4 linked regions of the Homo sapiens genome follow. The main gene of each other region encodes a partner of the protein of the gene in region 3 in a complex. Each region holds a gene or a part of one and is shown on either strand. Other genes may lie near its edges.

Region 1 (7,023 bases), on a different chromosome or scaffold from region 3:
CCCAAAAAACAGTTTCCTAATCTACACCTGCAATCTACACTTCTGAGCTTGTCACTGTAGTCTCTTAGTTGGTGACTCCACTGTCTTACTTGGTTAGCTTGGCTGGATACTCCTCCTCCTCTACATTTTTCTCAAATCTATTTCAATCAATTTCTGACTCTTCTACTGCTATTCTGGTTCATGAACCCCCCCCATTACTCCCACCACTAACCCATCTCTTGCTTGAGTAACAGCTTTTTTATTGAGACCTCTGATCCTGTTCCTTTGAAATCCATCTTCCTCTGAAGCAACCAGTGCCATGTAGTTTTTGTTTTTCCTTTCTGGTTGCACCTTTTTAAAAGATTAACTGTTCAAAAGCTTTATTCCTGCCACTCCCTGTAAGTTAGCGGACTTTCATTTCAGGCCATCTTGAGTGAACACACTCAACTCTACTCTCATGACTTCAAATATCAAAACTATGGATTAATGACCCCAAATCCGTATCTCCACCCAAAGGGTGTATCCAAAGGCCTTACATACATTTTTTTTTTTTTGAGACAGAGTCTCACTCTGTTGCCCAGGGTGGAGTAGAGTGGCACAATCTCAGCTCACAGCAACCTCCACCTCCCAGGTTCAAGCTATTCTCCTGCCTCTGCCTCCCAAGTAGCTGGGATTACGGGCATCCACGACCACGCCCAGCTAATTTTTGTATTTTTAGTAGAGACAGGGCTTTGCCATGTTGGCCAGGCTGGTCTCAAACTCCTGACCTCAGGTGATCTGCCTGCCTCAGCCTCACGAAGTGCTGGGATTACAGACGTGAGCCACCATGCCTGGTCACATTACATACATCTGAATGTTGACTTCAGCAGCTTGAAATCAACGTCTTTAATTTTATGTCCTCCATTCCTTATTCAGTTCGATCAGTACATTATCTATTGCCTGTATCAGCAGGGGAGGCGGGGGTGGTCCAATCTTTTGGCTTCCCTAGTCCACACTGGACAAAAAGAATTGTCTTGGACCACAAGTAAAATATACTAACACTAGCAACAGCTGATGAGCTTTAAAACAAATTAAAAAATAAAAAAAAAAAATAAATCGCAAAAGAATCTCATAATGTTTTAGAAAATTCACAAATCTGTGTTGAGCCTCATTCATAGCCATCCTAAGCCACATGCAGCCCACAGGTTGCACAGCTTGGCTTATCTTTTTTTTTTTTTTTTTTTTTTTGAGACGGAGTCTCGCTCTGTCGCCCAGGCTGGAGTGCAGTGGCATGATCTCGGCTCACTGCAAGCTCCACCTCCCAGATTCACACCATTCTCCTGCCTCAGCCTCCCGAGTAGCTGGGACTACAGGCACCCGCCACCACACCCGGCTAATTTTTTGTATTGTTAGTAGAGACAGGGGTTCACTGTGTTAGCCAGGATGGTCTCAATCTCCTGACCTGGTGATCCACTCGCCTCGGCCTCCCAAAGTGCTGGGATTACAGGTGTAAGCCACCGCACCCGGCCTATCATTATTTGAGACAGGGTCTCACTCTGTCACCCAGGCTGAAGCGCAGTAGCATGATCTCAGGTAACTGCAACCTCTACCTCCCGAGCTCAAGCAATCCTCCCACTTTGGCCTCCTAAGTAGCTGGGACTATAGGCGGGTGCCACCAAGCCAGGCTAATTTTTGTGTTTTTTGTAGAGACAGTGCTTCACCATGCTGCTCGGGCTGGTCTTAAACTGGGTTCAAGCAATATACCCGCCTTGGCTTCTCCCAGTGCTGGGATTACAGGCGTGAGCCACAGTGTCTGGCCTATTGCCTATATGATTGATACCACTTCCTAATCTATCTTCCGGTCTCCAAATTTTTTTGTTTTCAAATCCATTATCTAAAAAGCCAGTGACTCATCAAAAATACAAACTTGACTGTATCACTCCTCTGCTGAAAATGATGGTTCATCATTGAAAGGAGGACATCCAAGTTCTTTAATACATATGTGAGCTTCCTTTGTTCATGTGTAACAAATTACTTCCTGACTCAAAGTTTTGTTATTCCCCTTCAACTTAAAATTAATTTTGCTTTCCTGCATACATCAAGGGCTTTCTTTTTGTAGGTGAGCAGGGGAACCAGATGGGAAGACAAAAATATTTCATAATGAAGATTCTAGGCCGGGCATGGTGGCTCACGCCTGTAATCCCAGCACTTTGGAAGGCCAAGGCGGATAGATCACTTGATGTCAGGAGTCCAAGACCAGCCTGGCCAACATGGCGAAACCCTGTCTCTACTAAAAATACAAAAAATTAGTTGGGTGTGGTGGCATGCACCTGTAATTCCAGCTACTTGAGAGGCTGAGGCACAAGAATTGCATGCATCTGGGAGATGGAGGTCTCAGTGAGCCAAGATTGTGCCACTGCACTCCAGCCTGGGTGACACAGTGAGACTCTGTCTCAAAAAAAAAAAAAAAAAGGAATGAAGATTCTAAAATCTTACTCATAGGGAAATATCCAGTAGGAATCAGAAATATGGCATGAGGGCTCAGGCAAAAGGTCTAGGTTAGTAACTCAGAGCTGTACATTACAGACACAAAACTGCATATTCATGAATAATGCATTGAAAACAGTGTAATTCCCAGGATATCCATGTTATCATACATCTGTACCATATAATTATATAATATTACAAAACCATCATCCACTTCTGGATGAGTTAAAGATTCAATATGAATCTTCACTAATTCTTCCAACTTTGAACAGAGAAACAGAAAAAACTCAAAACTAACTCCATGTTTCTGGCTGCCTAGATTAGAATTAGTGATTTGGTAATTTACAATCATTGCAACAGCTACAGCCTTTTCATTAACGACTATAGTCTACCCCCTAAAGAAACCTTCCCTGTAAATGACCACTAGCTATCCTGATTTCTATTTGGAGAAGTAATATTTTACTCTGTACAAAGGTTTGAGAAATATTACCCCATTCTAAGATCTTTCAGAATCTGTATTAGTCAACTTTGAACAAGAAATTTCTGATAAAACTGTACAAAAAGAGGAGGTCGTCATATATACCAGACTAGTTAACACATAACCTATCCTAACTGAACATAAAGATCTAGCTGCAAACAAGACATTTTTACCTCAAGATAGTTTAGAAAAATTAATATGTATGAGAAATGCTCATCCTGAAACATCTAAAACAAGGATTCTTAGAATAAATTAAACTGTTCAACAGAAGTAATAAGCAAAATTACTCCATAAAGCCAAAAACATACCTGGTTTCTCAGACATACAGGACACACACTTATTGTCTTCTGCATTATTAGAAACACAGCATACTGAACACTCCCAAGATCCAATGGGCCTTTTGAATTTATCTCCAAATCCTAAGGTACCAGTGGTTACAGTGCAGCTGGAAGATGAAGCAGTCATAGTCTCAGCACTTTCCGAAACCACTGTCAATGTAAGGGCTCGCTTCACACAAGTTCCAGGTTTCGGTGTTTCACAGGCTACACATTTTATTGCTTCAGGTTTATTTTGCACTAAACAGGTATCACAATCCCAAGTGCCTATCACTGGTTTAAATTTGTCTCCAAAGCCTGTCCCTGATGCAGAAAGAGTTGTTTTGCCACTTTTATTTGGTGTTTCAATTCCAGTCTGTTTAGCAGTATCTCTGGGTGACAATTTTGCTGCTTGACAGGCTATGCATTTGTTGTCTGTAACTTTGTTCTGGAGTAGACATGTATCACACTGCCATGATGACCCAGCTTTTAAACTCTCCCCAAACCCAATTCCACTAGAAGAAAAGCTACTTATTGCTGGTCTTGTATAAACTACTGGGCTTGTTGCGGTGGGCTGAGCAGCAACAGAATCTATCTTCGGCGATGCGAAACCTACAATGAACGAAGGAGAGAGTGCAACGTTAGAGAAGCTTTATAAATCAAAGCATTAATTTGATTATTATTACTGAGAAGACGTTTACCTCACTGCACACTTACTACAATCCAAGATGAACTACTTAAGAATTGTTTTTCACTTAAGTAATCATATTTATCAATTACCTAATAAGTTACACTTAAACCATTTAAAATTCTACAAAAGATGTTTTGTTTACAGGATATCACCTTCTCCTTCAAGGAATTTCTAGTTTGATGCTTTCAATGGTACTAATTTACTGATATGTATTATTGCCATCCACATTTTGCTATATTCTGTCTCTCTACAAACACACAATACTCGCAGTCCTCTTTCTCCTTCATCCATTTCTTCTTTTAAGTGTTCCATTGGCTACACCAAATGGCTTCAATGTCATCTTTGAATTTTGTCCAGTCATAACCTACTGCTGTGGTATTCTCTACCTTCAGTAAAATCAGCTGAGCAAGTCCTTCTGTTACCAAAACTGCTGTCATTGAGTTCATTCACTCAAGCTGTATTTTACTCATGAGAATGACTTTTGTAATTGTTTACTTAGGACCAGTTAACTTTTGTCTTACACACAACACCACCATCTGTGATCTGTTTCTCCAGCCTTACCCGCCAAAGAAAAAGAAATTAAAAGGAGAGAAGATGTAGAAGGTTATTAGAGGTTTTCTAGTTCCACAAAATAATCCAGCCTAGAGCTATTTTTAGCTTAAGGACAAAATACCACATGCTTGAGTTATTCCCAGTGGGCAACGTGTTATTTTGCTTATGATTAATTTAAATCACTAAGATTGGCAAGATATTAACAGTAACCATCTCAAGGCATTACAGATTTCTTTTTCTTCTACTTTTTCAGATTTTCCTAATTTCAGTCAAATGAAGATTCTCCCCAAACATTTCCTATTTAAGAAGTAAAAAGGGAGCAGGGGGAGGTTGGCATCATGAATGCAAAGTGTAACCCCAGATACACAAGACAGACTATACACATTTGAGGCTTGCCTACTACTTGGTTAATTCCAGCACAAGCACTCTGGAGTTCTACCATAACTGCATGGAACTGTCCAAGCTACTGGACTCCTGTAGGCAGTATACTTATCTATAAAATGAGAGAGCTGGACCAGAAAAATTGAATCCTCCTAAATCCTGTTGTAAAAGCCAACCTTATTTTTTAAGAAAACCTATCTTATTACACATGGACACATCTGGTGGGTACGTTTAAATTCTTTCTGAGCTATTAGATTATCTCACAGTTTTACATTCTTTTATTCTTTTTTTCTTTTCCTTTCTTTTTTTTTTAAAGACAGAGTCTTGCTCTGTCGCCCAGGCTGGAGTGCAGTGGTTCGATCTCGGTTCACTGCAACCTCCACCTCCCAGGTTCAAGCAATTCTCCTGCCTCAGCCTCCCGAGTAGCTGGAACTACAGGTGCATGCCAGGACGCCCAGCTAATTTTTTCTCTTTTTAATAGAGATGGGGTTTCGCCATGTTGGCCAGGCTGGTCTTCAACTCCTGGCCTCAAGTGATCTGCCCGTCTTGGCCTCCCAAAGTGCTGGGATTACAAGGGTGAGCCACCGCGCCTGGCAAGTTTTACATTCTTATACTATGTATCATAAATGGAATTATGAACATCCTGTTTTCAAACAAAAAATTATTCTTATCTGAGAACTATTTATCCCCTTTCTAATTATTACCTACTAGCTTTCAAATCTTGCTTCAATTCAAGTGAGTACTGCTCCCTATGTATATGTTACAATTCAGCAGATGCTTTCCACTTGGCCTTGTTCCATATTTACCAAACTGGGGAATAATTCAAGAAGGCAGTTCAGTGCTCTCATAAGAGAAAGACATGTCTATGTGTATCATCAGGTTTACTTACTCTTATTCCTCACTGACCTACCTCTATTAATGGAGAATCCATTTCCTCCTCCTACACTTGCCTATTAGAAATTTCATTTTAGTATAGAGTCCTTTGGCTTGTAAGATATTTCCAGCAAAAGAATTACACCTAACTACATCTCTATTCAAAAGTAAATCTCCTACCAAACTAGTCAGAAATTTTTAAAAGCCTAAAGTATAATACAAAATGACATTAAATTGAGATCATGAGTTTGTAATCAAAAGGCTTATCTTTTAATTATCTTACCAGGGCTTTTCAGAATATCTAGAACACTTCCTTCTTTCAGGATTTCTGCAGGTCTAAAAGGACCCTCACAATCTTCAGGTGGTGTCTTCTTACAATTTGTACTGTTCACTGTAGTGACATGATGAGCTGTAATTTTTTTAAATTTAATAACATTATGCCAAATAAAACACTGGACTCTCAAATGCATTTTTAAAAATCTTTCAAAACCATCTTTTGGATTAATTTCTAAAAGTTCATGAAAAAAGTCACTTTAATTCAATAAACAAATGACTTTACAGGGATAATTTGCCATTACAAGGAGATAAAAACACTATTCCCATACTATATAACTTCCCCCACCAATAAAAAGGCAAAAAAATATAAACTATAATTATCGTCCAATTAACTGACTGATAATCAAAACAATCAAACTAAAAAACTGGAGAGGATATGGCAACTAGGGCAAGCCCATCCACTGCATGAAATATCTGATTACACAACAATTTACAAAACTAATCAAAAAAAGTAATTTTCAACTGAGCAATTATTTCATTTTTAGAAATTCACACTATTAATATAATTGAAAATATCCTTCAGTTATAATATTGAAAACCTATATGGTAAAATATTAAATAAGGGTATATGGTTACATAAATTACATAACAGTGACATGATGAAATACTTATGCAGCCACAGAAATCATTCTTTTTCAAAACAGAGAGTGAGTGTCTTGTTGTCAGCAAGGCCGGAGTACAGTGGTGCAATCATAGCTTAATGCATCCTCAAACTCCTGGGCTTAAGCAATCCTCCCACCTTAGCCTCTCAAGTAGCCAGGAACACAGGCGCATGCCACCACATCTAGCTCATTTTTTTTTTTACTTTTTTGTAGACATGGGGTCTCACTATGGCTGGCCAGACTGGTCTTAAACTCCTGGCCTCAGGTGATCCTCCCACATCGGCCTCCCAAAGCACTGGCATTACTGGCATGAGTCATCATGCCTGGCCCACAAAAATCATTCTTAAAAGT
Region 2 (7,023 bases), on a different chromosome or scaffold from region 3:
TATATATATATATATATATATATGCGCCTATACCGATGTTCCTCAACTTATGGTGGGTTTGTTTTCCAATAAACCCACTATCAGTTGAAAATATCATAGGTTGAAAATACATATAATACATCTAACCTAATGAACATCACGGCTTAGCCTAGCCTACTTAACCATGCTCAGGACACTTAACGTTAACCTATAAAGTTGGGCAAAATCATCTAACAGAAAGCCTACTTTATAATACACTGTTGAATATCTTGTGTAATTTATTGAATACTGTACTGCAACTGAAAAACTGAACGGTTGTATGAGTATTTTATTTATTTATTATTTATTTATTTATTTATTTTTGAGATGGAGTCTCGCTCTGTTGCCCAGGCTGGAGTGCAGTGGCATGATCTCGGCTCACTGCAACCTCTGCCTCCCAGGTTCAAGCGATTCTCCTGCCTCAGCCTCCTGAGTAGCTGGGATTACAGGTACGTGCCACTGCATCTGGCTAATTTCTGTATTTTTAGTAGAGACGGGGCTTTGCCATGTTGGCCAAACTGGTTTCGAACTCCTGACCTCAGGTGATCTGTCTGCCTCGGCCTCCCAAAGTGCTGGGATTATAGGCATGAGTCACTGTGCCCGGCCATCAGTATTTTAAAGTATGGTTTCTCATAAATGTTCATCACTTTCAAACCACTGTAAAGTTGAAAAATCGTAAGTCAAACCATTGTAAATTGGGGACCATTTGTATATGCCTACCTCAATTCCGAAGTATTGATGTCCTTTTCCCAATACAGCATCCACATATTCTGACACCAAATCCACAGCTTCTTCTAAAAGGTCATAGTTTAAGTATAAACGAAGCAATTCAGCAGCATCAACCTTCTGTGAAAAGTCAGTGATTAAGAATATGTACCTATTTCCCTCCTACTTGAGTACTGACCAAAGAATGTTGAGTGGCTGATTCCCTAACATTTGTATTTCTCAATATAATTAAACCAGTGGCTTGGTTTACTCATCTGTATCTTAGGATAAGAGCTGATAACAAATCTGGGGAGTTAGGAAAAAAAAAAAGTTAAATCCCTAAGAGCCGTTACCTCTAGGCAGTTTGGGAGGCCCTTATCTGTTAAATAGCCTTCTTCCCCTGTTTTATGACCTAAGACATATTTTAACTTCTCTCCACTTCAGTTTCCACAGTTGTAAAGTCAACAAACTTTTCCTGAACACTAAAGTGACAATATATTCACATAATAAGAAATATATGAATGACAAATGCAAAAGAAGTTCAAAGAATCACCAGCTTTAAATCTGAAGTCTCTATTTGGAAGAGCTCTATTAATTAAGCATGCTTTCTATATTCCCATTTGATCACAATCTTACCTTTACCATCTTAGCTGGCTTCCCTACTTTCCTATTTATTTATTTTTTTTGAGACAGAGTCTTGCTCTGTCGCCCAGGCTTGGGGGCAGTGGTGCAACCTCAGATCACTGTAACCTCTGCCTCCAGAGTAGCTGAGATTACAGGCACGCACCATCACATCCAGATAATTTTTGTATTTTTAGTGGAGATGGGGTTTCACCATGTTGGCCAGGCTGGTCTCGAATTCCTGACCTCAGGTGATCTGCCTGCCTTGGCCTCCCAAAGCGCTGGGTTTACAGGCGTGAGTCACCGTGCCCGGCCTCCTTTCTACCTTAAAAAAAAAACAAAAACAAAAACAAAAAAAACAAAACAAAACAAAACAAAAAAAACCAAAAAAAACTTTCCTGATTTTAAGCTTTAGATTTTCTCTTTCCTTATCCTACTAACGGTGGTTCAGATGCAGAAGTTCTCAAACTTTAGCATGCATCAAAATCAAATTAGGAGCTTCTTAAAATGTAGATTTCTGGCTCCTAGCCTGAGATAATCTGATTCTGTAAGTCTAGGATGAGGAATCTGTATTTTGAAGAAGACTGCCATCTGAATAATTCTGATGCAGACAGTCTAAGAACCCGTTTTTGATTTTTAATAGGTGAAACAGTGGGAGTGGAGAAGGAACCAATCGGAAACTGGTTGTGCTCAATTAGTTGTAAACAACACGGCACTCAGACCAGCCATAGTGTTATATTATTTGAAAAGTACTCCACCGACTCCTGTGACTTTTTTGAGGTATGAAGAGTAAATCCTGTGTCATGCATATGCTCATTGTTCTAAATATAAACTCATTGTTCAGTGAATATAATAGGAGTCATTAACCTAATTACTAACCTATGAAACTTCAAATCTAAATACACAGTAGTACTGTGGAAATGAATTTGAATTGTTCTTATGGTTTTAGCTATGATGAAAAGCTTCCCAAAGTACGTAAGTCAATATGTTCCCATAAGTTATCACCCCATCTTTTTCTTTTTCTTTATATATTTTTAAATTTAAATAGAGATGGGGTCTCCCTGTGTTGCCCAAGCTGGTCTCAAACTCCTGGGCTCAAGCCATCCTCCCCTGTTGGCCTACCAATGTGCGGGCATGACAGGTATGAGCCACTGCAATCAGTCCATATTTTTAATCATCTCATGAAGTTATCCAGAATGATAAAGAGTGGGTTCTTACTCTGTACAAGTTATAATCCGTTTACCTTGTAACTGTTTATAAGCCAATTAGGCAGAGGCACTCCATGAGACAAGAGCTTGTTGATTACACAGTGGTGATACAAGTTATTCTGGACTTTGTACCTCTCCAGGTAAGTGGATAATAGTCGCCATGCTTCATCTGTAGCACTTGAAAAAAACAAAAATGACTAATGAGTTTCAGATTCTTAATAGCTATTTAGAGTACCATTCAAAGCATGTATTTACAAGGAAAACTTTTTTTTCAGACAGGGTCTTGCTCTGTCACCCAGGCTAGAGTGGAGTGGTGTGATCTCAGCTCACTGCAGCCTCAGCCCCAGATTCTCCCATTTCAGCTTCCTAAATAGCTGGGAATACAGGCATGCACCACTATGCCCAGCTAATTTTGTTTATGTTTTGTAGAGACAAGGACTTGCTATGTTGTCCACGCTGGTATTAAACTCCAGAGCTAAAGTGATCCTCTGACCTTGTCCTCCCTAAGTGTTGGGATTACAGGCAGGAGTCACCATGCCCAGCCTTACAAGGAAAACTTTAGAAATTAACAACTGAATCAATAATATAGCTAAATGGGAACAAATATTATTTGGGCTAATGTGACTTATGGGGATAGCACTAGAAACTAGATGTCTTGGGTTCGTATATTCCTCTCCCACTAACGTATTTAGTATTTAGTAAACAAACATATTTAGTAAATGAACGTTATTTGTTTGGCTATTAATGCATAATTCATTTAACTCCTTTGTTTCTGCATTTCTAAAACAAGAAACTGGTTCAGAACACTGGTTCTCAAACCTGATCAAGCATTAGAATCATGCAGAAGTTCTAACTTAGAAGACTAGGGTGATTTCTCATAATCTGTATTTTAATAAGTTATTCTGATGTGCTAATTTAGGGGTTGAAAACTAATGTCAGAGAACTTCCAAATTCTAAAGTGCTATCACTCTAAAGTGCTAAGCTGTATAATACCAAGTGCAAATGCAGTTCAGAAAGGGAAGTTTACTGAGGGTTAGGAATGTTAGAGAAGGTTTCTGAAGAAGCTGAAGTATATTTACGTGGACACAAAGTGGGTGCACTGGGGAAGTATACGAACCAGAGGAGATCTGAAGAAGGTATAGTGGATGATGGGGGCTGATGGGTGACAGACTGCTGAACAGCAGCTGGAGACAAGATATAAGAGGACACTGTGATGAAACCATGCAGTGACTGCTCAGTGGAAGAAATGGGGGAAAAAAGGAGGATAACACTCCGAAACAAGTAAATACAGATTTTTGCCTGTAAGAGTACCCTTTCCTGATATGAAACAGTAAGTCTTTGAGGAGGGGGATATGGAGAAGGAGACATTTCATAGGCAAAGACATCCTAGTTTGGACAATAAATGACATGATGTCACCTTAATTATAAACTTTCCAGCCCCTATAAAAACTTAGCCAAAAAGAAAGAAAAAAGTGAAATGATCTATGTAGGACAATTTAGTCAGAGAAAGACAGTTACAGCTTTTAGAAAGGCAAAACTACCCAGGGTTGAACACCAGGGTTGTACCTAGACTCCTTAGTAGTGATGACAGATGAGAGCTGATTGGCTGCTAGCCAGGCCCAGGCTTCTGCTTGTGCTGCCTCTCCTCCAAATTGCAATTTGATGCATCTGGAATGAAAATGGTTCCACACTTGAAAACTGAACGCTGAAACGTACCACTTTAATTTGATACTAAAACTAGAGAGATAGATGACAACTTCATCTCTAGTCTTTTGCTGAATTCACTACTGGAATATTGGCTCATCTCTTCCTCAAGTTACACAACTGGATACCTACAAGAACATGAGTAAGCATTAAGAGACAATTTACTTCCAAGATAAAATTAATGATGAAAAATTCTTTTTTCTTTTCTTTTTTTTTGAGATGGAGTCTTGCTCTGTCACCCAGGCTGCAGTGCAGTGGTGCAATCTCAGCTCACTGCAACCTCTGCCTCCCAGGTTCAAGTGATTCTCCTGTCTCAGCCTCCTGAGTAGCTGGGACTACAGGCCCATGCCACCATGCCTGGCTAATTTTTTGTATATTTAGTAGAGACGGGGTTTCACTGTGTTAGCCAGGATGGTCTTGATCTCCTGACCTCATGATCCGCCCGCCTAGGTCTCCCAAAGTCCTGGGATAACAGGTATGAGCCACCGCACCTGGCCTCTTTTTTTTTTTAAATTAAGATGGAGTCTCGCTCTGTTGCCCAGGCTGGAGTGCAGTGGCGCAATCTCAACTCATTGTAACCTCCGTCTCCCAGGCTCAAGCGATTCTCCTGCCTTAGCCACCCAAGTAGCTGGGATTACAGGCACACGCCACCTCTCCTGGCTAACTTTTGTATTTTTAGTAGAGATGGGGTTTCGTCATGTTGGCCGGGCAGGTCTTGAACTCCTGACCTCAAGTGATCTGCCCACCTTGGCCTCCCAACGTGATGGCATTACAGGCGTAAGCCACTGCACCTGGCTGAAAAATTCTGAAAGTTCAAAATTATTTCTAATTCACAAACTTTTTTTTTTTTTTTTTTTGAAACAGAGTCTTGCTTTGTTGCCCAGGCTCGAGTGCAGAGGCGCGATCTCAGCTCACTGCAACCTCTGCCTCCCAAGTTCAAGAGATTCTTGTGCCTAAGCCTCCTGAGAGGCTGAAATTACTGTTGTGTGCCACACCCTCATTTTTGTATTTTTAGTAGAGACAGGGTTTCACCATGTTGGCCAGGCTGGTCCCAAGCGATCCACCCGCCACAGCCTCCCAAAGTATTAGTAGGATTACAGATGTGAGCCACTGTGCCTGGCCAAGAAATTCTTCTTCTTTTTTTTGAGACAGAGTCTCGCTCTGTCGCCCAGGCTGGAGTGCAGTGGCGCGATCTCGGCTCATTGCAAGCTCTGCCTCCCAGGTTCACGCCATTCTCCTGCCTCAGCCTCCCGAGTAGCTGGGACTACAGGCGCCCGCCACCACGCCCGACTAATTTTTTTTGTATTATTTTTAGTAGAGACGGGGTTTCACCTTGTTAGCCAGGATGGTCTTGATCTCCTGGCCTCGTGATCCGCCCGCCTCGGCCTCCCAAAGTGCTGGGATTACAGGCGTGAGCCACTGCGCTCAGCCTGAAATTCTTTTTAAGAATGCTTGGATGGATTAAACAAAACACTTCTTCAAATCATAAATGATATATGGGCTACTTGGCTTATGACGACTGTTTCACACTGAGCAAGAGGATAATATATTTGCATTAGAAAAGACTATAAAAAAATAATTTTATACATACTTGAAGGCAAGCCCTTCAAAGACTGGCGTTAAGGGAAGCTTAAAAGTCTGACAGAGTGATATGGCAGTGTCAAAGAGGCCCGCCTGAACCAAGAGAGTGACCATTTCCTCTGCTGATGAACTTCCTGTGAAAATGGAAAAAGATTATTTCGTGTAGCCAAGGTATACACAAATGAAACCAAAGATTTTGTTTTGTTGATGAGTATCTCTGAGTAATAACCCAGGCTTTATACCCATCTACCATGCTACATACACTGCCTGGACCTAAAATGTGCTCGTGGTGCTGACAAGTCAGAGGCTTTAAACTCTTGAATTCCTACCAGCAACTGCAACCGCTGATGGATCATGCTGAGCCAAAGTGAGGCGGATGCGAGCCAAGGAACACTCTTTCTCCAGATCTTCCAGTTCCAGGATTTCAATTTGTCGATTTGCTATACATCAAAGAAAAATATTTTGAACTCCCAAAATACAAAGAAGTATCCATCAGATTAACGCAACCTGTCAATTTCCACTGAACATTAAGTAACATTCAATCTAATTTCCAAATGCATGAAGGAAGGAGAAAATAGGGCACTAAATAAATGCTAACTTAAACAAATTATGCAATATCCCATGTCAAATCAAAGTATTTTAACCGACTGCAGTTGAGGAGGTGCTTACAAGGTACTACATGTAATTTCATTTAACTCTTTAAACTTTTTTTTTTTTTTTTAAGGAAACAAATCTCAATCTGTCACCCAGGCTGGAGTGCAGTGGCATGATCTCGGCTCACTGCAACCTCCGCCTCTTGGGTTCATGTGATTCTCCTGCCTCAGCCTTCCGAGTAGCTGGGATTACAGGCGTGCACCACCATGCCCAGCTAATTTTTGTATTTTTAGTAGACACGGGGTTTTACCATGTTGGCCAGGCTGTTCTTAAACTCCTGACCTCAGGTGATCCAGCCACCTCAGCCTCCCAACGTGCTGGGATTACAGGCATCAGCCACTGTGCCCAGCCTAAAAAATTTTTTTTCTACAGGGTCTTGCTATGTTGCCCAGGCTGGTCTTGAACTCCTGAGCTCAAATGACCCTCCTGCCTTGGCCTCCCAAAATGCTGGGATTACAAGGCATGAGCCACTGCACCTGGCCTCATTTAACTATTATAATTGTGAAATACTGTCTGTCATCTCTATCAATAA
Region 3 (7,974 bases):
TTCAGTGTATTCACATTGTGCAACAGATCTTCACAGCTTTTTTCATCTTGCAAAACAGAAACTCTATGCCCCCTAAACAACTCCCCACTTTCCCCTTTCCCAGCCCCTGGCAACCACCATTCTACTTTCTGTTTCTATGAGTATGACTACTTCAGATACCTCATATAAGTGGAATCATGTAGTATTTGTGTCTTGTGACTGGCTTATTTCACTTAGTATGTCCTCAAGTTTCATCCACGTTGTTTTATGTGACAGGATTTCCTTCCTTTTTAAGGCTGCATAAGGATACTATATATATGCATGTATACGTTATGTTATGTATATGCATGTATATGTATTATGCATATTGCATGTATATGACACATTTCCTTTACCCACTCAACCCAACATTCATTCCTTGATGGAAAAAGAGTTCCTTCCCTAAGACGTTTAGTTTTTTAAAAAACCAGCTCCTGACTCTTGGCTTTTAAAAATGTTTCCTATGTTGCCAATTAAACACTCCTGACACAAGGCTTTATTATACAATGTACACTCTTTGCTGCTGTTGGCAACTCCTTTTCCCTCCAATGATTTGTTTAATAATTATAATAGCTTAGGGCGAGTATGTACTAAAGGAATGTATATAGGCCAGGCACAGTGGCTCACGCCTGTAATCCCAGCACTTTGGGATGCCGAGGTAGGCGGATCACCTGAGGTCAGGAGTTTGAGACCAGTCTGGCCAACATGGTGAAACCCCGTCTCTACTAAAAATACAAAAAAAATTGGCCAGGCGCAGTGGCTCACACCTGTAATCCCAGCACTTTGGGAGGCTGAAGGGAGTGAATCACGGGGTCAGGAGCTCGAGACCAGCCTGGCCAATATGGTGAAACCCCTTCTCTACTACAAATACAAAAAATTAGCTGGGTGTAGTGGCGGGCGCCTGTAATCCCAGCCCCTCGGGAGGCTGAGGCAGGGGAATCGCTTGAACCCAGGAGGCGGACGTTGCAGTGAGCCAAGATCGTGCCACTGCACTCCAGCCCGGGCAACAGAGTGAGACTCCATCTCAAAAAAAAATTAGCCAGGCTAGCCAAGCATGGTGGCGGGCGCCTGTAATCCCAGTTACTTCAGAGGCTGAGGCAGGAGAGTTGCTCCAACCCAGGAGGTGGAGGCTGCAGTGAGCCGAGATCACGCCACTGCACTCCAGCCTGGGTGGACAGGATGAGACTCCATCTCAAAAAAAGAAAAAAAAAAAAAAGGAAAATAAATGTGTATACCTTGCGTACTGGCTCACACCTGTAAACCTACCACTTTGGGAGGCCGAGGCAGAAAGATCGCTTGAGGACAGCAGTTCGAGATCAGCCTAGCCAACATGGAGAAACCCCACCTCTACTAAAAATACAAAAATTAGCCCAGCGTGGTGGCACATGCCTGTAATCCCAGCTACTCAGGAGGCTGAGGCAGGAGAATTGCTTCAACCTGGGAGGCAGAGGTTGCAGCGAGCCAGGATCGCGGATCGCATCACTGCACTCCCGCCTGGGAGACAGAGCAAGACTCCATCTCAAAAAGAAAAATTAAAAAATAAAATAAAATAGAGAAATGTATTATATACAACCACACGTTAAGCATATCTAATTGGGAAGGAAGGACCGCAATATTAAGCATGTAACTTCATTACTAACCTTCTAATATATACGTCTAATATCATAAAATGAATTAGGTTGTGCTTAAGCAGTAGCACTAAGTAGTTTAAGCACCTAAGACTGACTTAGATCATTAGATGTTTAACTCTGGGGACATTACGTAACTATTTGAAGCCTCTATTTCCAAATCTGTAAAACGGAGTATGTAACAGTAACTACTCCAAAGGTGTATAAACGGGAACTGAATGAGATAAGCACGATAATAAGTGCAATGCTGGGATATAGTATGTGTTCAGTAAACATAGCCTTCATTATAATTTATCATAGCTTTTCTGAAATGATTTGATTTACAAAACAGATTTAGACAACTTTTCAAGAATATCAGTCCTGTGGAAAATAGAACCAATACTTTAAAAAAGAGTCCTTTTAAGTGAGATTCTCACAAGCATTTACCACACAGATATACTCTTAATCTTGCCCGCGAACTTCAGAGCATCTCAATCGAGGCATTAACATTCTAGGCACCAAATTATTTTTCCGGACTGCTCTGACCATGAAGGACTTTCTGCATCCTTGCCCCGCCTACTATGCGACAGCAGTGTACCCCAGGAAATATGACAATCAAAATGCACTCACTCATTCAAACACCACTGGAGGGCGGTACGGCCCGAATTGAGAATCACCGAAAGAGGATCCACCCCAAATCTTCCAGAGTTCCTTTACTACCTTCTAGATTCAATTCCACCCCGAAAATCTACAGCTCCAAAGGTACAAGAACATCCAGGGCCTAACCACATCCGCAGGGTTAGAAGACGTCTGCTGAAGCCCCGCCACCCTCTTCCTGACCACCTTTCAGATGGCCGACTTCATAATAGGGAGTATTCGCTGCCTGCAAGATCTCCCACCCTATAAGGAACTCCGACGCCTACTTTCAGCCTCTGCTCATGGCTGGAAAATATCTCGGGTCCTCTGGCTTCACTGTGGAAGACCTGATGCGTATTCCAGCGAAATCGGGACCACAGACGCACAGTGAAACTTGGGGGTGAGGGGGACCAGACTCAGCCCTGGGCTGTGAGAGATTACACACCTGGGTCCAGCGGCCCAAGCCTCACTGCCTGGAATCTCAAACCCCAACTCGAGGGCTGGAGCCGCAGCACCGACGCGCGCCATTCAAACTGGGGAGGGGTGGGACTCTAGGCCCAGAATTAGGGAAAAGCAGGCACCGCACATAAGTGGGGTCCTAGACTCCGAGAAACCTCACGGTCTCGTCTCTCCATGAAGACCTGGTTATCGCTCAGCTCAATCGTCTTTCTGTCTGGCCACACTTACCCGAATTTACCGCCAAAGGCGTCGCCATCTTAGAGGCGCACTAACAGAGCCCTTCTGCCGCATGGAGGCCCCGGGAAAGGGTGAGGCTGACCTGAGCGAAGCCTGAACAAAAAGGCACCACACTGTCCCCTCCACGCTGGGCCGTCCCAGGCGTACAAAAGGCTCCAGAATCTGCTCTGGGTCACAAACATCAATTTTCATTGGGATTATTCCCATTCAAATAAGGCGAGGGCAACCACTTCAGAGACACGAGGTCCTCGATCCGACGTTCATCGTGTAGTGCATCCTGGGACTTGTAGTTTCTAATGATGAGTTGGTTAAGTGGAGAGGAAAAAGTAAAGTGGAATAGAAAAAGATATTCTGAGAGTAGTTATTAAAATGACGCCCATTTATGACATTATAAAAGCCGTAAATTCAAATCATTATCTCCGCTTCAAGTTAAATCTTCCTTACAGTGGGGAGTGAAGTAAGGTATGAAGTGTCTACACCTCAAAAAGCCACTGACCGGTTACAAACTAAGTTTCCGTGACATTTCAGTTTACCAAATATATTCTGTCAACATAGTTGCGTAGAGCGAAACAAATCATAATTTTTAATTATAAAATTTTCAAACGGATACAAAATTAGAATAGCAAACACTCAGCATCAATAACGTGGCCAATTTCCCACCACGGCAGCCCCAACCCACCCTTACCACCCCAACACCCTCCCCTCCCCACCCCCCGCCCCCGATTAGTTTGAAACAGATTCCAGACATATCGTTTCATAATCACCAAGTATTTTTCTACCTGAGCACCCAAAGTAGCTGAACTCTTTCTTCAGCTGTTAAATTTTAGTTTGCTGATTTTCAAACTAAAATGTAAATAATCATTGCTATTTACAGCTATGTATTAAGAAAAATTTTATAGCCATTATCTCATTTAATCCCTGCAAACCATTCTATTGGGAAAATGATATGATTATAACTATTTATGTCAGAGACGCTCCATGTGCCTTACAATCTCATTGTATTAACTCTCCATCATTCCCATTTCACTGTTGGAAATCAGAATCAAATAATTTAGACAAAAGCATAGAGTATGTTAAGAATATCCAGAACTGGCAGGGCGCAGTGGCTTATGCCTGTAATCCCAGCACTTTGGGAGGCCAAGGCAGGCGATCACTTAAGGTCAAGTGTTTGAGACCAGCCTGGCCAGGAAGGTGAAACCCCGTCTCTACTAAAAATACAAAAATTAGCCAGGCATGGCGGCACGCACCTGTAACCCCAGCTGTTCGGAAGGCTGAGGCAGGAGAATCCCTTGAACCCGGGAGGTGGAGGTTGCAGTGAGCTGAGATCATACCACTGCACTCCAGCCTAGGCAACAGAGTGAGTGAGACTCCATTTAAAAAAAAAAAGAATATCCAGAACAGAACATTTATTCTTTTGAACAAATAATATCAAGTGACACAATGTACATTAGGTTTGAAACACAAAAATCACTGGTGATTTTTTCTAAAAGTCATTGATATATAGAGACAAATGCCAAACTACGATTAAAGTGGTTTTAAGGAGTGAAGTGGGGAAGAGAGAAAGTAAACGCAAAGGAATTTTTCAAGAAGTTTATCATGAAACTGAGAAGAATACTGAGCAGGAACTTGACAGGAAGCGGCATTCAAAGATTTCTCTCTCAGCACAGCTATTACAAGCCTTTCCCTCTCCACATGCACTTTTTAAGCCCACACGCTTCCCTCTCAGTAGATAACTTTGCTTTCTATAAAGTAACTCTTTAAATTCCAGCAACTCCTCTTCACCTGTCATTACACTTTACAAGCATTCTCTCACAGGCTTCTTCAATTCGTAGCAATTGGGATATTGCCATCATAAGCCCCTCTAAAACTGCGCTTGGTATGTTTACCAGTTATCAGTCATCAAATTCCATGGGCACTTTTCTGAATTATGATAGTTATAGGCCGGGTGCAGTGGCGCACGCCGGTAATCCTAGCACTATGGGACGCTGAGGTGGGAGAATCACCTGAGGTCAAGAGTTCGAGACCAGCCTGGCCAACATGGTGAAACCTTGTCTCTACTAAAAATACAAAATTAGCTGGGCGTGGTGACAGGACTCCTGTAATCCCAGCTACTTGGGAGACTAAGGCAGGAGAATCGCTTGAACCCCAGAGGCAGAGGTTGCAGTGAGCCGAGATCGCACCATTGCACTCCAGCCTGGGTAACAGAGTAAAAACTCTGCCTCAAAAAAAAAAAAAGAAAAAGAAAAGAAAAAGAAAGAAACAAAATTATATTATCCTGTGGCTACTGGGGCACCAATGATACTGGTTTTCCTCCTCTTTCCAGTTCTTTTTTAGTGTTTTACGTGGACTTCTCTTCCTCTTCTACCCACTAAATCTAGCTCTTCCCCTATAGTCATCTCTAGTTTCTGTCCTTTTCATTCTACATGCTTTCTGTGGGACATCTTATGGTTTCTTACTACCACCTGCTTGCTGATGAATTCTGTGTTTGTATCTCTAGTCCAGTCCTCTCTCTTGAGCTTCATATTTGTAGAACCAACTCTCTACTTCATATCTGTATTGATTGCCACACAGGCGTTTCAAAACCAACATGTCTGAAACGTAAATGATCACTTTTCCCCTAAAACTCTGCCACCTGTATCCCCACCCAGTTGCCAAAATCGGAAACCTGGGATTCTTTCTGTATTCTTCCTTCAATTGTCAAATCCTGTTCATTCTACCTCACAAATATTTCTGGAACCCTTTTCCTCTTCTCTGCTTTCTATGCCATTGTTCAAGTCTCATCTTCTTAAACTTGGTATTTTGCAATAGCCTTCTCATTTGTCTTTCTTATTTCCATCTGATCTTCCTTTCATGGACTCCTAAGGTGATTTTTATTTTTTATTTTATTTTATTAATTTATTTCAAGACACAGTTTCACTCTGTCGCTGGAGTGCAGTGGTGCAATCTTGGCTCACTGCAGCCTCCACCTCCCGGGTTCAAGCGATTCTTGTGCCTCAGCCTCCTGAGTAGCTGGGATTACAGGGGCATTTCACCACACCCGGCTAATTTTTGTATTTTTAGTACATGGCGGGGGGCGGGGGTTTGCCATGTTAGCCAGGCTGGTCTCGAACTCTTAACCTCGGCTTCCCAAAACACTGAAATTACAGGCATGAGTCACTGTGCCCAGCCTGAAAGTGATTTTTAAATACAAAAAAACATGACCGGACACGGTGGCTCACGCCTGTAATCCTAGCACTTTGGGAGGCCAAGACAGGCAGATCACCTGAGGTCAGGAGTTCGAGACCAGCCTGACCAACATGGAGAAACCCCGTCTCTACTAAAAATACAAAATTAGCTGGGCGTGGTGGCACATGCCTATAATGCCAGCTACTCAGGAGGCTGAGGCAGGAGAATTGCTTGAACCCGGGAGGCAGAGGTTGCGGTGAGCCAAGATCACGCCATTGCACTCCACCCTGGGCAAGAAGAGTGAAACTCTGTCTCAAAAAAAAGGAAAAAAAAATATGGCCAGGCGCAGTGCCTCACACCTGTAATCCCAGCACTTTGGGAGGCCGAGGCGGGCAGATCACGAGGTCAGGAGATTGAGACCATCCTGGCTAACACGGTGAAACCCCATCTCTACTAAAAATACAAAAAATTAGCCAGGTATGGTAGAGGGCACCTGTAGTCCCAGCTACTCAGGAGGCTGAGGCAGGAGAATGGTGTCAACCAGGGAGGCGGAGATAGCAGTGAGCCGAGACCGCACCACTGCACTCCAGCCTGGGTGACAGAGTGAGATTCTGTCTCAAAAAAAAAAAAAAAAAAAAAAAAAAAAACACATGATGTGGTTGTTCTGATCAAAATTTCTCAATGATCTTCTATTACTAAGAGTTATTACTAAGAGTATCATTTAAAATCTTCTTAGCAAGGCACTCATGACACTTCCTGATATGGTTCAGCCTCGTTCTTCAGCCTTCCACACTCTTCCTCAAGAGCCCTTTACTCTAATCATTCTGAACTATTTGTTATCCCCAAATACAACATGCTTTCTTTTGCCATGTATCAATGTCTTTGCACCTGCTATTCTGTCCTCCTGGACTGCCCTTCCTTCCCTTCCTTATTCACCTGTGACCACCCACCAAGTTAACCTCCAAACATGATCTGCTCTCCAAGTCTCAGGGCCTGTGTTAATGCTGCCTTCATGATGCTGTCCTTGATCCCCTGCCCCATCAAATTCGGGTGTTTCTTTGCCTGCAGACCTATTGCACTTTTTCCCATCTTTATTACGTCCCAATGTGCTATGACAATTGTCTCCTCACTAAAACTGTTAGCTTCTTGTGGTAGATTGTTATTAAAAGGCCCTCAGTGAATCACAGGTCCCTGAATTGAAGCCATTGTGTAATCATCTGCCACATTGAATCTGGGTTGGCCTTCTGACTTGCTTGGACCAGGAGAATGCAGAGGAAGTGATGTTGGGCACTTCCAAGCCCAGGATTTAAGAGACCTTGTTACTTCCTTTTTGCTCTTTTGCCCATGTAAGGAAACTCGAGCTTGTCTTTTTGAGGACGAAAGACCATGAGGAGAGAGGCCTAGCCAACCCTTAGCCATTCCAGACCCTAGCTGAAATGTTGAACATTAGTGAGGCTATTTTGGATCCTCAGTACTAGTTGATCCACCAACTGACTGTAAATGTGTGAGTCCAGACCAGATTGTAGAATTGTGAGCAAGTAAATGGCTATTGTTTTAAGTCACCGTTTTGTGATTTGTTATGCCCAAGAAATAACTGATATACTCCTAGAAAGCAACAGCTGTGTGTTTTTATATTTATATTCCATGCTCCTACCACATCTCTGGCTTGCAGTTACAATTCAGAAAAATAATTTGCAGAGCTTGGTGCTTCCACTGCCTACTGGGAGAGACCACATACAATTGTGATGAAGTGCACAGGACTTAGAGCAAGGCTTCCTGAATTCAAATTGTGTTTCAGTTACTTATTAGCTATGAAACCCTCCTGAGTACCTTGGTTTTTTCCTGTCTAAAT
Region 4 (7,107 bases), on a different chromosome or scaffold from region 3:
TGGTCTCAAACTCCTGAGCTCAGGCAATCCACCCGCCTCGGCCTCCCAAAGTGCTAGGATTACAGGCGTGAACCACCACACCACGCCTTTGTTTTAAGACAGGGCCTCACGCAGTTTCCCAGGCTGGAAAGCAGTGGTGCAATCACAGCACTGCAGTCTCAATCTTCCAGGCTCTGATGTTTCTTTGATTTCAGCCTCCTAAGTAGCTGGAGTACAGGTGCATGCCACCATACCTGCCTAATTTTTGTATTTTTCGTAGAGACAGGGTTTCCCCATGTTGCCCAGGCTAGTCTTGAACTTCTGGGCTCAGGAAATCCACCTGCCTTGACCTTTGAAGTGCTGGGATTACAGTAGTCAGTCACCATGCTCAGCCAATACTTATCCTTAAATCTCTGAGTTTCTTAGTTCCCTAACCTTTCAACAAATTACATAACTGCATAGTCTCATTATTGGAAATTAAACATTAGTACCATCATTCTTTACTTTCCAGGTTAACTACCACCACATAAATCATATTACAAGAAAATAATATAATTTTTTCAAAGCCGTAAATTTAGTTCCTTAAAAATTCTACTTGCTCTTAGTTATCTAGGACCTAGTAGACATAAAGTCAGGTACTGGCTGGGCACAGTGGCTCATACCTGTAATCCCAGCACTTTGGGAGGCCGAGGTGGGGGATGGCTTGAGCCCAGGAATTCGATACCAGCCTGGGCAACATAGCGAAACCCTGTCTCTACCCAAAATATACAAAAAAATATTAGCTGGGTATGGTGGTGCACACCTGTGGTCTCAGCTACTTGGGAGGCTGAGGTGGGAAGATTGCTTGAGCCCAGGAGGTAGAGGCTACTGTGAACCGAGATTGCGCCACTGCACTCTAGCCTGGGTGATGGAGTGAGACCCTATCTCATAAATAAATAAACAAATAAATGTCAGGGACCAAAGTATCACATAACATATAAACAGCAGGAACTATCTTATCTGGGCCCCATATTTCAGGAGCCTCTCTATTGACTACTGTTAGGTATAACTCCTCCATATTTGTCTATTCATTCAAGTAAACACACTTACTGAGGGCCTACTATGTGGCAAGCAACTGGACAACAAAGATAAGATGAAAATATTTTACCAGCCTAATTAAAAAAACAGCTAAAATAAAAATGATATGTGCTATAAATAGAAATATCAAATAAGTGTTATGGAAGCTTGCAGAGAAGAGAATGCCAAGAAAAGCTTCCCAGAAGAGGGTGATGCCTGAACTGAGAAAATGTCACGGAAAACATACCCTGTTCACGCTTTACTATTTAGACTACGGTTCTCTTCTGCACTACTAGTTCTGAGTTTATGCTTTGTCATCTATACAAGAACAAAGTAACAATCTTACTGATGTGTACAGAACCAAGTGTCAACTAATTCAATTTCATCAAATCTGAAGAGTCAAAAAGAATAATTTTACCCAAGTATTTCCCAGTACCTTTATCCTGTCCAACCTCTAGTTTTGGTTTTTAAATACCCTAACTTCCTCCACCAGGTAAACATACTGTAACCCAGTTAACTCGAGTTTCTTTTCGAATTTGTAAGACCGTCACAGGGAATGATCACTGCTCTCTTTTTGCTCTTTATTCCAGTTAGCTTCTTCCTCCAAAACGGAGTTTTATTTCCTCACCTTATTCTACTATAATACTTCACTTTGAATTCTGTACCTGAAAGGAGCCATGAGTTCCGAGGTACAACTACTACAAACGGACTCCTACCTGGCTTTCTAAGTCTTATCAATATTTCCTGCTTTCTATTCCAGTACTGTTATAAATCCCTAACTGACTCCGAGTCCTCATCAGCTGACACAAGTCAAAAAATTCAGATTTAGAAAGGGAAACAATGGCTTGTAGTTTTACCGATTTGTTTCCGATACATAACAACGCTGACGTTCTTTAACCATCTTCTAAGTTTAGTTCTCAAGCTCTAGGTTAGGGTACCACTAACGAAGCTTCCACCTTACCCGTGAACAGAGCTGGTAGCAACTAAACGGAAAACGCTGTGAAGACTACATCTACGTTTAGCTACCTAATGTCCATGCCGCACCGACCTCCTAAAGGGAATTCTTAATAATGGGAGACTGAAATATCCAGGGAGGGTGAGGTAGTAGAAAACTGTTTAGACTGTCAAAAATCTGGCATTGGCTAATCCTGCCTGTTACTCCGGGCCTCGGTTTCCCCATCTACAAAACTGATGTAAGGTAGGGGGATTGACTTAAACAATTTCTAAAGTCCTTATGGCTATAGTAATCCAGAAACTCAATCTGTCTCCTCATCTGGCTTTACACTGAACACGTGGGAAAATAGAAAAGAACCTTTTGCTCCACCGAACCGACTCCTATTCTCAGATATTATCTTAAAAATCTCCCAAACTTCGGACTCACCCTAATCCTCGGGGTGCCCACTTCCCTTATGGAGAAGCCAAGGCAAATAAAGCCCAGTCCCACATGACGGTCAAGGAAGTGCGGGGCAGACCGTATTCAGGGTTTCAAGGCGCTGACCCCGGAAAGGCCAGCCCACCGTGGGGTCCTTACACCACTGAATGAATGAGTACAACCAGACAGACACCCACTCGCGTGGGCAGCAACTGGAGACCTCCAGGCCTAGACCCCACTGATGTCCATTCTCTCCCAGGGCCTCCAAAGCCGGGCCTCCCGGGCTCCGGGCCCCCGGGTCCTCAGCACCGCCCCTCTCTCAGGCCAGAAGGTGCGCGCAGCGGCGCTAGACTTCGAAGCGGAGAGGCCCTGAGACGCCCCGCGCGTCCGCCCGCCCGGAAGGGGGGAGAAACCTGCCGGTCTCGGCCGCTGCAGCTCGGGCTCCCGACTTACCGCGGTTCGGTGGGGAAGGGGAAGTGTCAGGAGTCCCCTGCTGCCACCCGCCGCTCACAGAGCAGCGCGCGGCCCCCACGAAACCGTCGCCGCCGCCGCTACCACCCCTGCCACCGACCGCCGCTTCGGGCGCAGCGCGCAGAGGGCCCGACTGCGTCACACGCCGCCCGGCGTCAGAGGCTCGTTGCGGACGCTCCGCCCTCGCCGTCCGCGAATTGGTGGACGCGGCCGCCACTCTGGGTCGACCCTGTTATTCATTGGGCAACGCGTCTTTTGAAACCGAACTGAAGGGGGAAGGGGCGAGAGGGAAGAGGAGGGGCAGAAGGAGTTCGGGGAGGCACAGGGTAGGAGCGGTGAGAGGGCCGTGGAGTCCCGCCCCTCGCCGCCGCGGTTGGCGGGAGCGTGTCGTGACGTCACACAGGGCCTCTCGAAGTGGGCTTGTGAATGGCTAGATTGGGAAGCACCGGCGGGGTGTCGGGAAGGGTGGTGACGCAACATAGAGACTCCGCCCCCTTCCTTGGAGCGCCGCGACTCGGGCTGAGGGAGCTCGGGCCAATCAGAGGGACGGCCCCAGAATGGCATGGTAACTATTCGACCCTTTCCTTGCCCCGGTCCGCCGGCGCTGCTGGGAAGGCTTCCTAGTCTCTCTGCCCGCACTTCCCGCCCAGACCACGTGCGGAGCCTGAGGGCCCTCTTGGAAGGTCTGTCTGTCCAAAGAGTTTGCCCGAGGCTTCTTCAGGGCCCTAAATCCTGACCCTATTCTCTCCTGACCCATGCTCGCCCCAGCACTTTCTTTCCCTCCCTGAATTTCTAGGATGGACATTAGGAGCATTAGAGATGCCCTAAGGGACTGGCCCACCAAAGGGCCTGGTACAAATGAGGATTGTTGGAACGTCTTTCCCAGCTGCACGTGGAGAACCCCTAATTCTTTTTTTTTCTTTTTCTTTTGAGATGAAGTCTCGCGTTGTCGCCTAGGGTGGAGTGCATTGGCGCAATCTCGGCTCACTGCAACCTCTGCCTCCCGGGTTCAAGCGATTCTCCCGCCTTAGCCTCCCAAGTAGCTGGGATTACAGGCGTCCGCCACCAGGCCCAGCTAATTTTTGTATTTATAGTAGAGACGGGGATTTCACTGTGTTGGTCAGGCTGGTCTCGAACTCCTGATCTCAAGTGATCCACCCGCCTCGGCCTCCCAAAGTGCTGGGATTACAGACGTGAGCCACCTCGCCCATGAACTAATTTTTTTTTTTTTTTTTGAGATGGAGTCTTGCTCTGTCTCCTCTTTCTCCCAGGCTGGAGTGCAGTGGCACGATCTCGGCTCACTGCAATCTCCGCCTCCCAGGTACAAGAGAGTCTCCTGTCGTAGCCTCCCGAGTAGCTGGGATTACAGGCACTCGCCGCCGCGCCCAGCTGATTTTGTATTTTTAGTAGAGATGGGGTTTCACCATGTTGGCCAGGCTGGTCTCGAACTCCGGAACTCAGGTGATCCGCCCGCCTCGGCCTCCCACAGTGCTGGCCTTACAGGCGTGAGCCACCGCGCCCAGCCGAACCCCTACTTATTCTTAAAGGACGGGTATTTCAAATGTTCCCATCTTCTCAGTGATACATTTGCCAAGCTTTCACAGCGAGTTGAGCTAATGCTTGGGCAGGCCTCTGTTAAAGCCTTGTCACTTTGTATCCTATTATTTACCCTCGGTTTTCTGTGCCTTGGGCTCTTCTTGGAAGTCCTTCTGGGGCCTAGCCCATTAGCAGAAAACTGATATTACAAGAGTGAAAGGTGGGCATTTTCTAGAAACTAGACCTGTTTAGTGACTGAGAGTCTCATAGCAGGAACTGTGCGCAGAAAGCAAAGCGTATACTGGCCGGGCTGGTGGCTCATGCCTGTAATCCCAGCACTTTGGGATGCTGAGGCGGGCAGATTATTTGAGGCCAGGAGTTCGAGACCAGCCTGGCCAACATGATGAAACCCTGTCTCTACTAAGAATACAAAAATTGGTCAAGCATGGTGGTGGGCACCTATAATCCCAGCTGCTTCTCGGTTTGCTGAGGCACGAGAATGGCTTGAACCAGGGAGGCGGAGATTACAGTGAGTGGAGATCCTGCCACTGCGCTCCAGAGTGATCTCAAAAAAAATTTTTAAAAAACCTCCACCACTACTCCTTTGTGAGACATGAATGCAAAATTGAACTGGGCTTTTACCTAAAATGTAAATGAGTTTAAAGCCATCTGGGTTTTCGGTGATGGCAAGGGATTAGAGATAATTGATTTATTTGTTTGTTTAAAAAATGGGAGACTGGGAGTGGTGGCTCACGCCTGTAATCCCAGCACTGGGGAGTTCAAGGTAGGAGGATCACTTGAACCCAGGAGTTCGAGACCAGCTCGGGCAACATAGTGAGTCCCCACCTATACAAAAAATTAACCAAGGCCAGGTGTGGTGGCAAGCGCCTGTGGTCCCAGCTACTAGGGAGGCTGAAGTAGGAGGATCGTTTGAGCCCAAGAGGTTAAAGCTACAGTGAGCTGTGATTACAGTCATGCCACTCCCGCCTGGGCAACAGACGGAGCCTCCGACTGGGGGAAAAAAAAGGTGGTGGGTTGTAAAGATGGAATAAGATAGTGGATGGAAGAAACACGGTACATTGTAGGTGCTCAGTAGATACTTGAAGGAAGAAGAAAATCAATATATGGTTGGCCAAATAGTAAAGTTACTTTAAACAACTGACTGCAGCCATCTTCCCCCAACTCCTCCATCCAAAACACCCCTACTTTACAACCACACTCCCTTGCCTTTGCTGGACTTTAGAAAGTCATTAACTCTCCCTAGATAGTTACAGTAGCTTCATAACTGCCCTCTGGAACATTTGATTTCTTGCCCTTTAATCTCCAAGCCCAATTATTTTTAAGGCTCTCTTCTACTGACTTATTTTGGTGTCCCTAAGGCAGGGCACATAGTAGGTACACATTAGATATTTGATGCACGAATGAGTGAATTATTTTCTTCAGTGGGGGATTAGTAGAGGTGTTGGACTTTGAGTCAGAGAACCCTGGTTTAAATTTGGATGCAGATTTAATTTAATTCAGTTTAAATTTATTTATTAATTTAATTTAATTCAGTTTAATTTAATTAAGAAATTTGGGCCAGGCGGGATGGCTCACGCCTGTAATCCCAGCACTTTGGGAGGCCGAGGTGGGCGGATCACGAGGTCAGGAGATCGAGACCAGCCTGGCTAACAGAAGGAAACCCCATCTCTACTGAAAATACAAAAAAATTAGCCGGGCGTGGTGGCACATACCTGTAGTCCCAGCTACTTGGGAGGCTGAGGCAGGAGAATTGCTTGAACCTGGGAGGCGGAGGTTGCAGTGAGCTGAGATCGAGCCACTGCACTCGATCCTGGGCCACAGAGTGAGACTCCGTCTCAAAAAAAAAAAAAAAAAAAAGAAATTTAGGCAAATTTCCTGCCGGGAATGGTGGCTCACGCCTATAATCCCAGCACTTTTGGAGGCTGAAGCAGGTGGATCACCTGAGGTCAGGAGTTCGAAACCCGCCTGGCCAACATGGTGAAACCCTGTCTCTACTAAATATACAAAAAATTAGCCGGGTGTGGTGGCTCATGCCTGTAATCCCAGCTACTTGGGAGGCTGAGGCAGGAGAATTGCTTGAACCGGGGAGGCAGAGGTTGCAGTGAGCTGAGATGGCACCATTGCACTCCAGCGTGGGCAACAAGAGTGAAAGTCTGTCTTCAAAAAAAAAAGAAAAGAAAGGAAAGAAAAAGAAATTTGGGCAAATTTCCTAATCCCTCTGAACCTCAATTTTCTTTTGTATAAAATGGGGATAACAACCACATTTGCCTTACAGGGTCGTAGTGAGCATTAAAAGAGAGAATACATTTAAAGCACTTAGCATAGTACCTGGCACAGATAAGGCCTCAATAAATGGTATTGTTTGCATTATTTAAAAATGTATCCCAGCCGGGCATGGTGGCTCAAGCCTGTAATCCCAGCACTTTGGGAGGCCGAGGCGGGCGGATCACAAGGTCAGGAGATCGAGACCATCCTGGCTAACATGGTGAAACCCCGTCTGTACTAAAAATACAAAAAATTAGCCGGGCGCGGTGGCAGGCGCCTGTAGTCCCAGCTATTCGGGAGGCTGAGGCAGGAGAATGGTGTGAACCCAGGAGGCGGAGCTTGCAGTGAGCAGAGATCGCGCCACTGCACTCCAGCCTGGGTGACAGAGCAAGACTCCATCTCAAAAA

Evidence for each region.
Region 1: NUP205 (region 3) and NUP153 share a complex: the UniProt entries of both Homo sapiens proteins name them as parts of the nuclear pore complex.
Region 2: NUP205 (region 3) and NUP160 share a complex: the UniProt entries of both Homo sapiens proteins name them as parts of the nuclear pore complex.
Region 4: NUP205 (region 3) and NUP98 share a complex: the UniProt entries of both Homo sapiens proteins name them as parts of the nuclear pore complex.

What each region holds. Positions count from the first base shown.
Region 1 is NC_000006.12:17,633,922-17,640,944, forward strand, and holds part of NUP153 (nuclear pore complex protein Nup153), read right to left. Parts: intron 6,144-7,023; coding exon 6,018-6,143; intron 3,850-6,017; coding exon 3,232-3,849; intron 1-3,231. UniProt on the Homo sapiens protein: Component of the nuclear pore complex (NPC), a complex required for the trafficking across the nuclear envelope. Functions as a scaffolding element in the nuclear phase of the NPC essential for normal nucleocytoplasmic transport of proteins and mRNAs.
Region 2 is NC_000011.10:47,782,335-47,789,357, forward strand, and holds part of NUP160 (nuclear pore complex protein Nup160), read right to left. Parts: intron 6,278-7,023; coding exon 6,167-6,277; intron 5,972-6,166; coding exon 5,848-5,971; intron 4,221-5,847; coding exon 4,119-4,220; intron 2,730-4,118; coding exon 2,588-2,729; intron 865-2,587; coding exon 739-864; intron 1-738. UniProt on the Homo sapiens protein: Functions as a component of the nuclear pore complex (NPC). Involved in poly(A)+ RNA transport.
Region 3 is NC_000007.14:135,552,947-135,560,920, reverse strand, and holds the start of NUP205 (nuclear pore complex protein Nup205), read right to left. Parts: upstream 3,005-7,974; 5' UTR 2,977-3,004; coding exon 2,949-2,976; intron 1-2,948. UniProt on the Homo sapiens protein: Plays a role in the nuclear pore complex (NPC) assembly and/or maintenance. May anchor NUP62 and other nucleoporins, but not NUP153 and TPR, to the NPC.
Region 4 is NC_000011.10:3,794,540-3,801,646, forward strand, and holds the start of NUP98 (nuclear pore complex protein Nup98-Nup96 isoform 1 precursor), read right to left. Parts: upstream 3,016-7,107; 5' UTR 2,861-3,015; intron 1-2,860. Other genes in the region: acyltransferase PGAP2, read left to right, coding at 3,441-3,443. UniProt on the Homo sapiens protein: Plays a role in the nuclear pore complex (NPC) assembly and/or maintenance. NUP98 and NUP96 are involved in the bidirectional transport across the NPC. May anchor NUP153 and TPR to the NPC.